2 linked regions of the Homo sapiens genome follow. The protein of the gene in region 1 purifies or fractionates together with the protein of each later gene. This does not show direct contact. Each region holds a gene or a part of one and is shown on either strand. Other genes may lie near its edges.

Region 1 (8,544 bases):
AAAATTAGCCGGGCGTGGTGGCAGGTGCCTGTAATCCCAGCTACTTGGGAGGCTGAGGCAGAAGAATGGCATGAACCCAGGAGGCGGAGTTTGCAGTGAGCCGAGATAGCACCACTGCACTCCAGCCTGGGCAACAGAGCGAGACTCCGTCTCAAAAAAAAAAAAAAAAAAAAAGCAGACATTCTGTGTCTTTAGCCTATAACCACTAGAAATTAAAAAGGTTGATTCTTTTAAAAGGAGTGACCATTTTGCACCTTAATAATACTCTCTCAACCCATCCCCCAGCCCTCAGAGAAAGCAAATAAAAACGTCAGCCGGGTGAGGTGGTTCGCGCCTGTAATCCCAGCACTTTGGGAGGCGGAGGTGGGTGGATCACCTGAGATCACGAGTTCAAGACCAGCCTGGCCAACATGGTGAAACCCTGTCTCTACTAAAAAATACAAAATTAGCCGGGCGTGGTGGTTGGTGCCTGTAATCCCAGCTACTCGGGAGGCTGAGGCAGGAGAATCGCTTGAGCCTGGGAGGTGAAGGTTGCAGTAAGTGGAGATCATGCCACTGCACTCCAGCCTGGGCAACAGAATCTCAAAAAACAACAACCACAACAACGACAACAAAAAAAACCTCTCTCAACCCATCCCCCAGCCCTCAGAGAAAGCAAATAAAAATGTCTTCACCTCCATTTGGCAATGAGGTTATTAAGTTCACGAAGGTACTTTGGGACCTAGAGAAGCTCGGTTCTGTTTTGATCAGTGTAGGAGCAGAAGTCCACCGGTGGGACTTTGAGCCCCAGACACCACAACCCACCCTGACCAGTACCCTGGAGACCTCTCAAAAAACAACCACGCGGAGGGCCTGAGGAAAATCTTATGACATATCAAACAGACTTATGAAATGGGTGCTTTGAGGCCTCTTCAGACATACCTTTACCAGCTTCAGTCTGTGCGAAGCTGCCCTGTGAAGGAAGTTTAAAAAAAAAAAAAAAAAGCAAGAATTAGGAACGATGATAACAAATTCAATAAAAATCACTCTCGTGCTGCTGGTATCTGATCTCACGCCTTTCTCTTTCAGGTTGGAGGAATAAATAACTAGGAGAAGGGGAAATGTAAAAAAAAAAAAAATGCTGGGTTTCACAGGAAATTTCAGCAAATGTGGCTCTAAAATGGACACATCAAAAAAGCCCCTTGAGAAAAGGCGAGTCTTGAGAAAGGCGAGTCACCTGCCAGAAAAAGACAGGGAGGAAGGGAGTCACAGGCAGGTGCTCCTCCCAAGATGGTGGAGATCTGTGTGTTTCTGAGGCACATCGCCCCTGCCCCAAGCTTCAGGGGCACAGTCACAGCCGATGATCGTCACCCAACATAATCATACAGGCCCAAAAAGGCTCTGACAGCACATCGAAGGGGAGCCAGACTCCTGGGAGACGTTCTTTGTTACAGAGCGAGGTTGGGACTACAGAGAATGGGCTGAGGTATGAATATTCTAGAATTAGTCAGACGGTCCCCAGTACCTGTGGTCAGAATTCCGTGTGACCTCTCTTAAGGAGTCATATTTTCAGCTAATAACATTAAAGCTAAATAAAGGACTCTCCACTGTAGTGTTCTGAAAAATCTCTGATCTGGAAATGGCTCTTCCTTTCCCCCATAATGCGTGCCTGTTCCCTTTCCTGTCATTCATGGGTTCAATCCATCATTTCAGACACTCTTCGGGAGCAAAGGAATCATCACTTTCTTTGAAATCAACATCCAACTTTTGGAAGAGTTATTCTTTTCTCCTCAGTTAGGGATCCACATTATTCTACATATAGAATAATCTTTTTAAGTGAAGCTTATTGCCAGAACACCCTCAGATTTCAACAAAGGAGAAGAAATATGTGAAGGCATGCCTACAGAGTTAAAAACAGAGCCCTGTCCTTCATTCCCCCATGGGGCTGAAATGCTCTCAATCTCCTGAAAAAAAAATATGTAAGCAGAGCCACTGACCTGTGTTCTGCACTGCCATGAAGATAAACAATAATTGGGTTCCCATCACGAAGGGCTGCTTCATACCAGCAACAGTCCTTCCCCTTGGCATCTTCCCCCCGGCAGCTGGGGACTGTGTGCCTGAAGAGCAAGGGAGGTTTAAACAAATGTAGAAAGAGGAATTCTCCATCCTTTCCAAAGGCCGAAAGTCTCCTTATGATATATATACATATATTTTAATTTTTTATCCGACTAATATATGCACATGGCAAAAATAAAAATCTAACACCACAAAAAGTCTTATGACGAGAACCACAACTGCCCTACCCCATGTCCCCATGCACAGAGACAATGCCTTTTAACGACTTACTGTTTTCGTTCTTCTGACTTCTGCACCTGTTAATTTTCCAAGACTGCAGTTCTTAGGTACAGCCCATTGAAATTGTTTTTTTTAAAAAGGGAAACAAGTAAAAGATAATAGATGTTTACCATCTGCCATGAGTTCGGCCGAAGAGATAAGTAGGAAATAATTTAAAGAGAAACCAGTTTATGTAAGAGAAAAGAACTAAAACACTAAACTATTTTGCTCCAGAAACCAAGAAACCTTGTGATTTTAAACATCTGTGTGAGTTCCAGTTTCTCCACTTTGTTAAACCAGTGAATGCTGCAAATGCAAACACTGCCATATGACATGTCACCATGGGATGTGGAGAACTGGCTAAGGGTGACAAATCTTCTGTCCTCTCCATCACTTAAGGACAGAAAGTCTGCCATCATCCCCAGGGCCTCTGTACTCCGAATATAGGCACTGCTGCCTGCTGGATGAGCTGATCTTGATGAGATAGCTGACTCACCAAACCAAGGACCAGTGGGGCAAAAGCAAAAAATAAAAAGATTTCTAAATTCCAACACATTTGGGTGAACTGTACCCTGAAGAGTAGGAAGAAGTTATGGGTTTGTCCTAAACATTTTATGATCAAAGGTTTGAACTCAGGGAGATGAAATAGAAAACAGGTCACTGGAAACTTGGCAGCCAAGAATGAGTATTACAACTAAACAGAAGAAATGTTAAGGTTAGCATTGTAAGACAATAGACTGTTCATGACCTCATCTGACATATTTACTGAATGCCCTTTATGTGCCAAACATTGTGCTAAGCAATGAAAACCCACCAACAAAGTCTATCACCTGCTGAAGCTATAGTCTTGTAAGGAAGACAAATATTAACCAAATCATCACACAAACATTTATTTCATGACAATGGGAATAATTGTCAAAAGGGACAAGCACAGATGGCCATGACAGCACATACCTAAAACGGGCAGTGAGGAAAGGCTTTTCTGAAAATTACCAATTAAAGTAAGATCCAATAGATGAGTAGACAGTTAGCAAGGCAAGAGGGAAGGCAGGGAGCTGAGAAATAGAAGGAAGCCTTGAAGGCAGAGCATGTCCTAGGAGGACAGTGTGTCTGGAGTTAAGGGCATGAAGGCAAGGGTGGTATGGAATAAGGCAGAAGGGATGGGTGAGGCCAGAAGCCAAGGGCAACACCTAAATGTCTATACTCCAAAGCAAAATTCTTAGGAAAATCAAGCAAATCAACAGAAGAGGAAGGTGTAGGAAACAGCCTCCAGGTACCTCCAGGAGCACCGACCTCTCCGTGGGCAGGTAACACAGCACTGCTCCTCTGAGTCCTAACAGGAACACCTGCCCCATCAAGCAACCCGGTGTCCCATCCGTGCACTCACCAGATCCCTAGCATCACCCCAGGTTCAACTCTCAGGTAGAAGTTCACTGTGTGAGGAATCTTTAACTCTGGTTTCTTTAAATCCACAAGAAATGGGGCTTTGACTGGAAAGTAAAAATCATTATCAACTTCAAGAATCAAATTCCATGCCTTTTAATCACAATCAAAGAAAGGAATTAGCCTACACAGGTTAACAGGCTTCTAAGTTGCAAGCTACTACACTAAACTCCTAGCAGAGTATTTTATTTTATCAGCTAGGACTAGCCTGCAGAGGAGGGGCAAAAAACAAAAACCTAAAAGCTAGATTTTAAAATAGCATCAGTGTCATGGCTCATAATAGAGAAACAGAGTTATTCAATCCTTATCCTTGTCTCCAGCTTTTTAAAAGCAGTGGAGACCATTCCCCTAAGAAGGTAAAAAGGCCTAGAAGAAAATAATAAGTATTCTGCTACTTCGGTGAAACCTAATCATCAGCCAAAAGGCAAGAAATGTCCAGAACTACCTGCTTACCAGGAGGCAAGCAGGTAAGAACTAGAAGGACTGTGAATGGAACCCCCACCCACAAGGCCATGCATCTCTCTTTACTCCCAACAGTTTGCAAGGATTCCTGCTAGACTTCAAAGTCAATATTAAATAAGTTTCAGACCATTTCAGTCTAACCACAATTTTACAGCTGACATGTCTTTTCACTACGTCACAACTTTAAGGGTACTGAGGTCTTTATTTGGGAAAAATTATATAGGAAAATTTATGGAAGGTCCATACTTACAAAAATTAAAATAAATTAGCATGTCTATCAGAGGAAGGAAAACGTGTTCTTTTAAGGATTTACTAGTAAAGCTGTCATACAGAGCAGCAATTTTTCTTCCGAGCATTGAACAGGAGTGTGGAAAATATCTGCAAGGTATTGGGAAACACACAAGGTTTTCGAAATTAATCCATTTGTCTTGGTTTGTTTTTTTCTTTTTCTTTGTTTTTTTTTGGACAGAGTTCTGCTCTTGTTGCCCAGGCTGGAGTGCAATGGCATGTTCTCAGCTCACTGCAACCTCTGCCTCCCGGGATCAAGCAATTCTCCTGCCTGAGCCTCCCAAGTAGCTGGCATTACAGGCACCCACCACCATGCCTGGCTAATTTTTGTATTTTTAGTAGAGACAGGGTTTCACCATGTTGGCCAGGCTGGTCTCGAACTCCTGACCTCAGGTGATCCGCCCCCAAATTTCAGAGACTAACACTGGGAATTCTGGGTCAGATGGCATTTAAGCAAAATCTTTTACACAATGACAAGGAATTATCTACACGGCAGGCCAAGACTGGGACTAAGGGGAAACCAGGTAAGGAAAGTAATAGGGCAGGGCCCCAACCAGTAGCTGAAAAAGCCAGGACATGGCAGGGACAGGAAGGGAAGGGATATGTTCGCACCACAGCCAGGTTTGGTCCCTTACTGTAGCCCCATAGAAGGCTGAGGCTGGACCCCAAAGTCACCAGTAAACAGGATTCAGACAGTTTAACAGTTGCTGCAGTTTTTAATTATATCACAATTCTGCACTATATGTGTTAGCTATTCTTATCATTAGTCTCAGGCAGTGAGGGAATAATCCCTAGATCCTCTATATTCTGGACTTATCTTAGGAAGAAATGAGCCAGTGTTAGGAGACCCCACTTCTGAGATGAGATCCCTGGAAGAGATGGACCCATGAGGCACAGGGCTGGAGCCTGGTCAGGGAGTGGGATGGGCGCATGCACATCTTGCCTACGCTATTGTTCCCTGTGACACAAACCACCCAATCAGGAGCTGTCAGCACACAAGTGACGATTTGTCCATGAGGGGTCACTAAGGACACCTCTGTCTCAAGCCACCTCTCTTGTGAGGGTCTTAGAGAGGTGAGGGATACAGGAGGTCAATGTCATCACCTCCTGCTTCCAGTTTTTGCCCACATTATCCATTAAGTAAGTCCCTTTCCATGTTGTAAGAGATCATTGTTAAAACTGTTTAATATAATCAAATGGTAAGGTTGAGGGGCTGGAAAGCATTTTTGATAAATTGTCTCCCCTGCCCTGATTTCTATGCTAGACCAGAGGCATTTTTGGAAGATAATTATTACCTTTGCTTTGCAAATGAGACTGGAAAGTTAAGTAATCTTTCCAAGGTCACAAGTCAATGAATGGCAGAGCCACACATACCCAGGTCTGTCTGATCCCATAGTCTTATAATGATCTCCAGGATGTCACAGTCTTGGTGACATCCATGTAAGCAGAAATGAACCCCAGGAACAAAGCTGGCCTCTGGCAAAATTCTGCTCATAGACAATCTTGTTTTAAGATCTCCTTCTGCACCTTAGCCCTCTCAGCAGGGTCCCGTCCTTTCTTCTTTCCTCCTTCCTGCTCCTGTATTCTCAGGAGCCCTCTGATAACAAAGTCATCAAAGAAAGACCTCTAAAAAAATTAATTCCCCCTGAAGTGTTAATGACTTAAAAATCAGAGCACTTATATGTGTTTGGAAGAGGCACGAAGAGAGAAGATAATGAATCTCTGATGAATTTCCAGCAGTTCTGCAAGAAGTGGAAAAGATATGTGGGCTAAGGGTAATGGATAGATTTTTGAATACATCATACGCTGGCAATTGCCTACTCATAAAATCAGCAAGAAAGAAATGAAAATGATTGTTTCATAATACTTTAAAATAGCACCCCACCACCCCTGCCATGAAGGCGGCAGGAAGGAGAGGACATTGTTGTTCTGATTTTAGAGATAAGAAATCAAAACCCAGAGAAGCCACTTTGAGCCACAGATCAAGCCCAAATGGACAGAACTGAACCCAAGGCTGAACTGTGCCTCCTTCCAGCTGCTGGCTCCTGCTGGCTTCCTTCTAAGCTCCCCTCACTCACCTCCACCCTGCCTGTTAGTCTCCAGCTAAGCTGTCTTTTGAAGGTAGGCAGGGTAGTCTCCCGCTAAGCTATGTTTTGAAGGTCTGCTTGGGAAGCAGAGGCAGTAGAGGGAAATGTGTGTCTGTTTTTTAAGGAATAATTCATACACAGTCCTTCTCTCAAATAGCTCGAGGCACTTTTCTGAGATGCACTGCGGGAAGAGAACAGAGTGACCAGATCCTCAGAGCATCAATAATGCAAAGCAGCTTCTTTTAACTAAGGGGTTGTCAATTTGACTTCCCCTAGATCAGTAAGGGATCAAAAGTCACCAGTGGCTAATAGACCTTATTTGAGCAGAGGATGCAGTTTCAGCCCAATCCCCGCTAACGGCCAGCCACATCAAACGGCCACCTTGGTGCTTTGGTGTTCTTTCACTTGCCCTTTGATCAGCTGCAGCTGTAACCACACAGCGTCCCACAGGGGACTCAGAACCTAACTGGATGATTCTTACTGGTGAAAGCTGGTGGAGTCTGAGCTGCTACAGGGTGAATCACTCATGCTCAGAGGTTTCTGCAAACCAACTTTGGGAAGCCCAAATCTAACTACATTTACTATTTCAAATATTAAGACAGGTACCTTCAACCTGTGTGCCAATTCACTCAGTCGACATGTGTTTGTCACCAAGCACCGGGAGACATCCTCCCAACCAAATCCCCTCTTCCTTCACACCCATGGAAGTATCTCTTTTTTGTCAAAGTCTCCTGGAGAGATCATTCCATGGTGACCTCTCCTCTCTTGTCTTTCCTCCCACAAATAATAACGGGGCCTCAGCTGGCCTTGAATTGTTCTGTGATGGCTTTCCCATTATTAGCCCTGTCTTCTCCACTCTATCAGGCCACAGACAACAAGAACAACATGGCATAGAATGCTTCCTTTACATTTCCCTCTGTCTAGCCCAGGGCTGAGCTCAGTAAATATTGACGCATAGGTTGAAAATAGAAAGAGAGTGCATTTATTTTGTAAGGGAGAAGGAAGCAACATTTATTGGTAGCTTCAGAGGAAAGAGGAAGGACTTCATTTTCTTTTTTTTACTTACAATTGCAAATGAATCAATGTGTGCTCCACAGAGCAAGGATTTTGTCTGTTTTATTTACTGCTGTGTGACCAAGACTAGAATACTATCCAATAGATAATAAAGAACCAACGCTGTGGAAAGAATGAACACATTTATCAGCCTACTCCTGCACATTTTCTGAGCACTATCTAGGATTGTAATGACTTGGGGTGGAATGGGGGAAATGAGGAGGAAAATAAACCTTTGGTTTCCCCCAACTTCCTTCTGGAGCACATTTTCCATTTTTCTTTTTTTATTATTATTTTTTTTTGAGACGGAGTCTCGCTCTGTCACCCAGGCTGGAGTGCAGTGGTGCGATCTCGGCTCACTCCAACCTCCGCCTCCCAGGTTCAAGCAATTCTCCTGCCTCAGCCTCCGGAGTAGCTGGGACTACGGGCATGTGCCACCACGCCTGGCTAATTTTTTGTATTTTTAGTAGAGACAGGGTTTCACTGTGTTAGCCAGGATGGTCTCCATCTCCTGACCTCATGATCTGCCCGCCTTGGCTTCCCAAAGTGCTGGGATTACAGATGTGAGCCACAATGCCTGGCCTCATTTTTCTAATTTAAAGAAAACCAGTTGTAAAGTGGAGACTTACTCTCCTTGGCCCACCCACCTTAAGCAGCAACTGGATTTGATAAAAATTTTTGTAAAATAAATAACTAGATTCCCAAGGCATTAAAAAATAGCCACTGAAAAAATCATATGATGAAATGTTCTTGGGTCTCACAACACATCCCACTAGTTCCAGTGCCATGATCAGGGCCAGGGGCATGGCAAGCCCTCCATGAAGGTTTGCTCACCTAAGTGAACCCGGCTCCAAGAATCAAAGAGGACTTGGGATAGTGGAAATGGGTCTGGGCCTCA
Region 2 (6,537 bases), on another chromosome or scaffold:
AAGGGATGCAGGAAAGAACACAGCTACCCCTTGAGAGGCTGTGGGAGGCAGCATCCCCAGGGAGAGCTGGGTTTCGATTAGAACAGCGAAGCAAAGGAGGCATTCACAGAAGAGGACATCAGGGATGTCGCTGCTGATGGATGGGGGCAGAAAGTGGGGCATTACAGAGCTGCATGGGACAGAAGTCTCCAGGGGAGTCATGGGCTTCCTACAGGGTCTGGGATAAAGGGTTTGACAAGATTAGTCTGAGACAGGATAGGAATCCATGCCACATGGAGATGGGGGGAGCTGGGGAGATGTGGGTCTTCCCAGAAGCACTCTGGGCTCCTTTCCCACTCTTGCTGAGGCCTGTGGGAGCTCAGATGCAGGCTGTTCTAGAGAGAACACATGTAGCCTGAGGGGTTTTTTTTGAGATGGAGTCTCGCTCTGTCCCCCAGGCTGGAGTGCAGTGGCCTGATCTTGGCTCACTGCAAGCGCCGCCTCCTGGGTTCACGCCATTCTCCTGCCTCAGCCTCCCGAGTACCTGGGACTACAGGAGCCCGCCACCACACCTGGCTAACTTTTTTTATTTTTAGTAGAGATGGGGTTTCATTGTGTTAGCCAGGATGGTCTCGATCTCCTGACCTTGTGATCCACCCACCTTGACAGGCCCATCTTGGAGTCAAGAAATATTGATTTCTTCCTTCAGCCTGGAGACTCTCATGTGACAGGAATTCCAGGGACAGTGCAGGCACAAGCTAAAGCGTCTATGTATTGACTTGGGTTTACATGGCTGCCAGAGGCAACTGGCACCGTCCACCACTTCAGGAGTGGCTGCCACTCTGTATTTGTTATGACTACGGTTTTCCAGCTACTGTCTGCTGTTGACCTCCCAATGTGACAGCTAACCAATGCAACAAACTAAGTAGGCTAATTAATGGCAGCGAGAGAAGTCTCCCTGCCCCACCTGTGTTATACAACTGCACTGGATGGTGGTGATCTGCTCTTTTCAAAAGCAGCTAGAAGTAAAGACCCATGTGTTCACTTGCCTCGTACTGACAGCAGTGGAACCCAGTGAGGGACAGTACTTTTCTCCCTCACTCCATGAATGACCCTACAATGAATTATTTTTCCCCTAAAGCAAGGGAGAAAGAGTATAGATTTTAAAAGGGTATGTGACCCTTATTTTTCTATCTTAGGAAAACAGTAGCCAAACCACCTAGTCACTTGTGTACATATTTACATTTATTTACAAAAGTATCTACATCATCAGTAAAAACAATTTACTGACAAAAAAAGCAAGCACCTAGTCATATAATAAGTTGATGACAGCCAAAACTAATGCTTGTTCTTTGTTAGTGGGTATTTCTTCTTAAAGCAGCTGCTTCAAGTTACATTTCCAACAGTTGTTCAAAAATTGTAATACTCAAATGAGAAATCAGATGGCTTTTTAGTTTTTAAAATAATTTAGTTATGCTGTTGTCTTCATCTTCTGTTACCAATCAATTGGAGCTACAAAAAAAAATCATATTATTAACTTGTAAAATGCAGTAAATCTGGGCTGCAGACCAGGAGTCTTAATTACCCTCCTATTCTAAAGTGAATAGCCCTTTTGTAATAAACTCATCAAAGCCAAGGGAGCTAGGGAGCAGGGATGGAGGAAGAACTGCCTTGAGTGCTCTTGGGATAGTAGTCTGAGTAACACTTGAAGAACAGCCTTCAGGATGCTGCACTCAATAGCAGCCCCAAGGCTCCTCCCGCTTACTCTCTGAGTATAACTGAAAGATTGAACAACAGAGCTGAGACTGTTAGACCCACATGTAAACTGTCACCCATTTGTAACAGCTACTTCCTTCTTTGCTACATGAAACTCCTGGGGATGGTTTTCTTCCTACCTCAAACTTACCTTCCTGTTTAGTCACCTCTGTGGCAACGACAGAACAATCTCTGGCTGTCTTGGAGTAAATCAGCCGAAAAACAAAACCGCATCCTTGAGCAAGCCCTCAAACCGAGTCCATTTCCCGGCCTCCTCCCCCGTGGTCTGCGTATTTCCACAGAGCTCAAAATCAGACCAGGCCAGAGCTCCCCAAACATTTGTATCTCATTGGTAACAAGAATTCATGAGAAATTAGTGCTGTGGTCACAGGGGTGAGGTAAAGGACAGCAAACTAGAAGTTTCCCTCCTTGGGAGCCTCACAGAACATGAAATGGGTGCTGTGACTTTCTGAGGGGGATAAAGTGGGAAATGTTTGTAAACCAGGTTGGCAGGCACAGGATTCTTGTTGGGGCAGCTTTTTGCCGGTCTCTGCTTCCCTGCCCTCTCCCAGCAGTCTCCTCACCCACTACAAGGAATCAAGCCTGCTTCTCCAGCTTGGCTCCTGCCTGAGATCCCACCTGTAAATCTTTCTTCTCGGAGAAATAGGACTCCCTGCTTCCTTTTTAATTTGGCTAACTTTGTGATCTGTTTTCTAGACACTTACACAAAAAATACCAGGGCACTCAGAAATTGCCTACGTTGAACTGCCTGGGTGAGAAGTGTGGCGTGGCCATTTCCCGTCAGATGTCTGCTATCTACTCATCTGTCCTCTGTTGTTCCTAATTGGGTTTAGTTCTTCCTGCTCCTGCCCTCGCGCAGCTGGGGAAATATTGCATTTGTTCCTACTTATGCTTGCCCCTTTCTCATCTCCTCCCCCGATCTCCTCCATCTCCACCATATACAGAACCTTTTAACATTTTAATTTAACTTAATTTTTTTGATGCCCAGGCTGGTCTCTTAACTCCTGGGCTCAAGAAATCCTCCCACTAACTCCTAAACTCAAGCGATCCTCGCACCTCAGCCTCCCAAGTAGCTGAGACTACAGGTGTGTGCTACCATACCCAGCTTCATAACCCTTTAGTAACTGAGCTTAGAGAATTCCCCCTGCTGCCACAATGGGTTCTTTAAATTTAAAAATAATTATTAAATAGGCAGTAAACACACATGATGCAGAACTTGAATAGTAAATAAAAATATACCAAGAAAAGTAAGCTCCTCTCTCAATCTCAGCCCCAAATACTCAGGTCTCTCCCTAGAATGCCACCTTAGAGAGGTCAGTGTTACCTTTCTAGACTCATCATTCCAAAGCAGTGCTTTTCATGCAAAATGTTCCTGCTCAAGAACCTATAATGGCTGCTTATTTCCATATCACTCCATTCTAAGGACCTCCTTGCAAATATTCAGTGTCTTTTGCCTCTACTTCAACTCGATGCCAGGCAGGTCAATCTTACTATCAAATAAATCACAACAGATTTAATTCCCTCTCATGTATTTGCCTCCGCTGTTTATCCCACCTGGAATGCCTTTTCTACTCCACTCTTGTTCTGAAAATGTAGGTCACATCCTACCCCCTCCAAAGCTTTTCTGATTATTCTGGCCTCTCCAATTCCTCTGCGTTGGTTGCTCAGCCCTTACCCTCATATCACACATTCTGCCTATCACCTGTGCTTCCTGCCTAAGTCCTTCTAAGAGTTTCGTATGCTCATGTGCATCCATTCTCTCTCCCTGGTGTGGCCACAAGCTTCTTGTGGGAGGAGCCCTATTATATGCTTTCTCTGAATCCCACACAATGTCTAGCCTCGCTGGGTACTCTGACCCCCACCCTATCAGCTAGCACAGTGCCTGGTATCGCATAATCTCCATAACGTTTGTTGTGATGAAAGGAACAGAGGAAGGGATGAGTTCCAGAATGCCCATCCCCTTTCCCCGTGGCCCTGGATGATGCCCCCCTACCCCCATCATTGGTAGTGATGGCTATGCCTCCCCCATCCACTCAGAGTTCCCCTCCACTGTAACCACCTAGATCTCAGCAGAGACCTGACTTGGCTCTCACACTCACCTGGGGCTCACGCATATTGCTCAGATCTGAAATGCCTTCCTCTGACCACAAGCCTGGAGGTCCCTACCTCTCCCACCTCACCTCATCTCCAGCTACTTGGCTCCTCTCTGCCCAGCCTCCTGGCCCATCAACCCCTCATGGCCTTGGGTCCTCCCAGCTTGGGTCTGTGGCCGGCTGAGCTGCCCCTTGTACTTCCTTGCCCCCAGGCCTCCTGCCACAGCTTGTTTCTCCTGCACTGTTCCACCTGGCAGCTGAGGAGAAAGGACACCTGTGGCCCATCCATCGATCCCACCTCACCTAGGCCCTTGCTGCTGCTTAGCCACCCTCACTTCATCCCTGCACTGACCACAGCAACCGACTCCACAAAACCAAAGGTCTTAACCCCTCGCCTACCTCCTTGTCTCTGCAGCTTTAACATGTAGCCTCCTCCCTCGAGTCTCTAACCCGGGGCTACCCTGGCTCTGATCCTGGACTTTGCTTCCCCAGTCCCGCCTCCTCTGCCTCTTCCCATCACCCTAGGGCATCTAGCTTTTCTTTCTTAGTGACCTCAGGTGCTCACGGCATCAATTACTGTCCAGATGAAGAGGCGCCCCAATCCGTAACTCTAGCGTGAAGCCCACGCTCCAATTCTGTGCATGGACATCACTAGCCAGGTAATACACCAGCACCCCAAAATCAACCTGTCAAAGCAAAAATTCATAATTTTCCTTCCCAACCAAGATTCCTGTGTGACTCCTCTGTGACACTTGGTCCTGTCGCTTTTATTTTTCTTGAAAAATAATAGTAACAATAGTCATAATGGCTAACATTTATTGAAAACTATTATGAGCCAGCCACTATTGTAAGCATTGTACTTATATTAATATATTTTGACACAGTTATTTCTATGTGATTATCTATGCTATCATTGTCATTTCTATATTATCATTATGCCCATTTTCCACAGAAGACAACCAAAGCACAGAGAGTTTAAGTGACTTGTCCAAGGCCTGTGAGAAATGGAGCTGGCATTTGAACCAGGGAGTTTGGCATCAGAGCCTACACTGCCAGATGAAAGTTTTGCTAACAGGACCTCTGCTGTTTCTCTCAAACCTAGCTCTGCATATTCAGTTCTGCCACCATCACCTTGACTCAGGCCCTCTTCTCTGCTTGGCTGGATTATTTCATTACTCCACTAACCAGTGTCCTCATCTCATCTCCTATTAATTAGTCCCATGCTTTGCCAGCAGAGTGATCTTACTAAAGCATAGTTCTGCTAGAAAACTCTGCGGTTCTCCCTAAAGAATGACCCAAAGCCTCTCTCAAAGTCTCAGCCTGGCCCAACCTGCCAGCCCAGCCCCATCTTTCTCTAATGCCTCAACACTCTCTGCTCCAAAGAGGATGGCTTGCTACTTCTTGTCCTGCCCTTCACACCCTGGGCCTTAACTCTTCCCCTCATCCCTCAACACCCAGCTCATGCCTCTGCCTCCTGACCACCAGTGGGATCTGCCAGGAGGGGGCCTCTTGGAGCACCCTACGGCGGTTTATTAAACCAACACTGCTGCTAATTGTGTTTGTGTCCTATCTTTTATATGTGACTACAGGCCCAGCTCTGACCCTGGCTCCTGAAGTGAACCCTATCCCTGATCCAACTTTTTCTGGGATGGGAGGTGGAGGGAGTGTATTGTAGTGGTTAACAGTATAACTCTTGGAGTCCAAAGACCTAGATTTAAATCCCAGCCCATCACTTACTAGCAACGTGACTTTGATATCTCACTTGACTTCTATGAATCTCATATGCGCTGTCTCTAAGCAAGGGGTATGATACTCCTCCTGCAAGGCTCATTGAGAGGGTTCCAGGAAACGATATGCAGAGAGTGGCTAGTGCAGTGCATGGCACACAGTTGGTACTTAATACACTATGGTTAGTATATCTGCTGATGTTACTTCTTATTACTGTACAAGGCAACCAACAGATGAGTACAATCTGGCTTCCCAAGTAATGGGCATCTACAGCAGGGCTGCTGTTGTTCTGGCACAGAGTGCACAGCCTGCAGTGTACTTACTTGGTTCTGTCTGGTTTTCTGTCACATTTCAGAATACCTAAAAATGAAGAAATTGTCTTCTCAATTAAAGAACTGAAAAGAAAAGGTGAAATGTGGAGTTACTGACTGCCTATTAGAGGCCTAAATATGGAAAACTAAGCCAGAGCCCCATCACCCTGGGATTTCCTGCTATCCTATATGCTTTAAATCAAATCGGCTACAGAGCTGGTCCAAAGAGTTGTTCAAAAATTGGTCAGAACATGATAGAAAACCAAATGCAAAAACTGTTGACAAAATGGCTAATTTTACCTCGTGCATAAGGCTGAAGATGCAGGGAAGGCTAGAATAGTTTGGACCAGTGCTGTCCAATAGAAATATAATGCAAGCCACATAAGTAATTTAAAATTTTTGGTATCCACATTACAAAGTAAAAAAAAATGTAAATTTTAATATTTTATTTAACACAATGTGTCACAAATATAAAATTATTTCAACATGTACTCAATATAAACATTTTTTAATGAGATATTTTATATTCTTTCACACACGGTCTTAGAAACATATTATTTTACACTCACAGCACATGATAATTTGGACTCCCACATTTCAAGTGCTCCATAGCCACATGTAGCTCATGGCTACTATTTCAGACATTAAGA

What was found.
Region 2: the proteins of ABHD12B (region 1) and CD58 purify together in Homo sapiens (affinity purification with mass spectrometry; 3 studies listed by BioGRID and IntAct, with this or other methods). This does not show direct contact.

Annotation. Positions count from the first base shown.
Region 1 is NC_000014.9:50,874,004-50,882,547, reverse strand, and holds part of ABHD12B (protein ABHD12B), read right to left. Parts: intron 4,597-8,544; coding exon 4,469-4,596; intron 3,804-4,468; coding exon 3,701-3,803; intron 2,097-3,700; coding exon 1,977-2,096; intron 953-1,976; coding exon 922-952; intron 1-921.
Region 2 is NC_000001.11:116,513,332-116,519,868, forward strand, and holds the end of CD58 (lymphocyte function-associated antigen 3), read right to left. Parts: intron 5,972-6,537; exon of another isoform or gene 5,937-5,971; coding exon 5,900-5,936; coding exon of another isoform or gene 5,896-5,899; exon of another isoform or gene 5,369-5,895; intron 1,492-5,368; coding exon 1,482-1,491; 3' UTR 1,203-1,481; downstream 1-1,202. UniProt on the Homo sapiens protein: Ligand of the T-lymphocyte CD2 glycoprotein.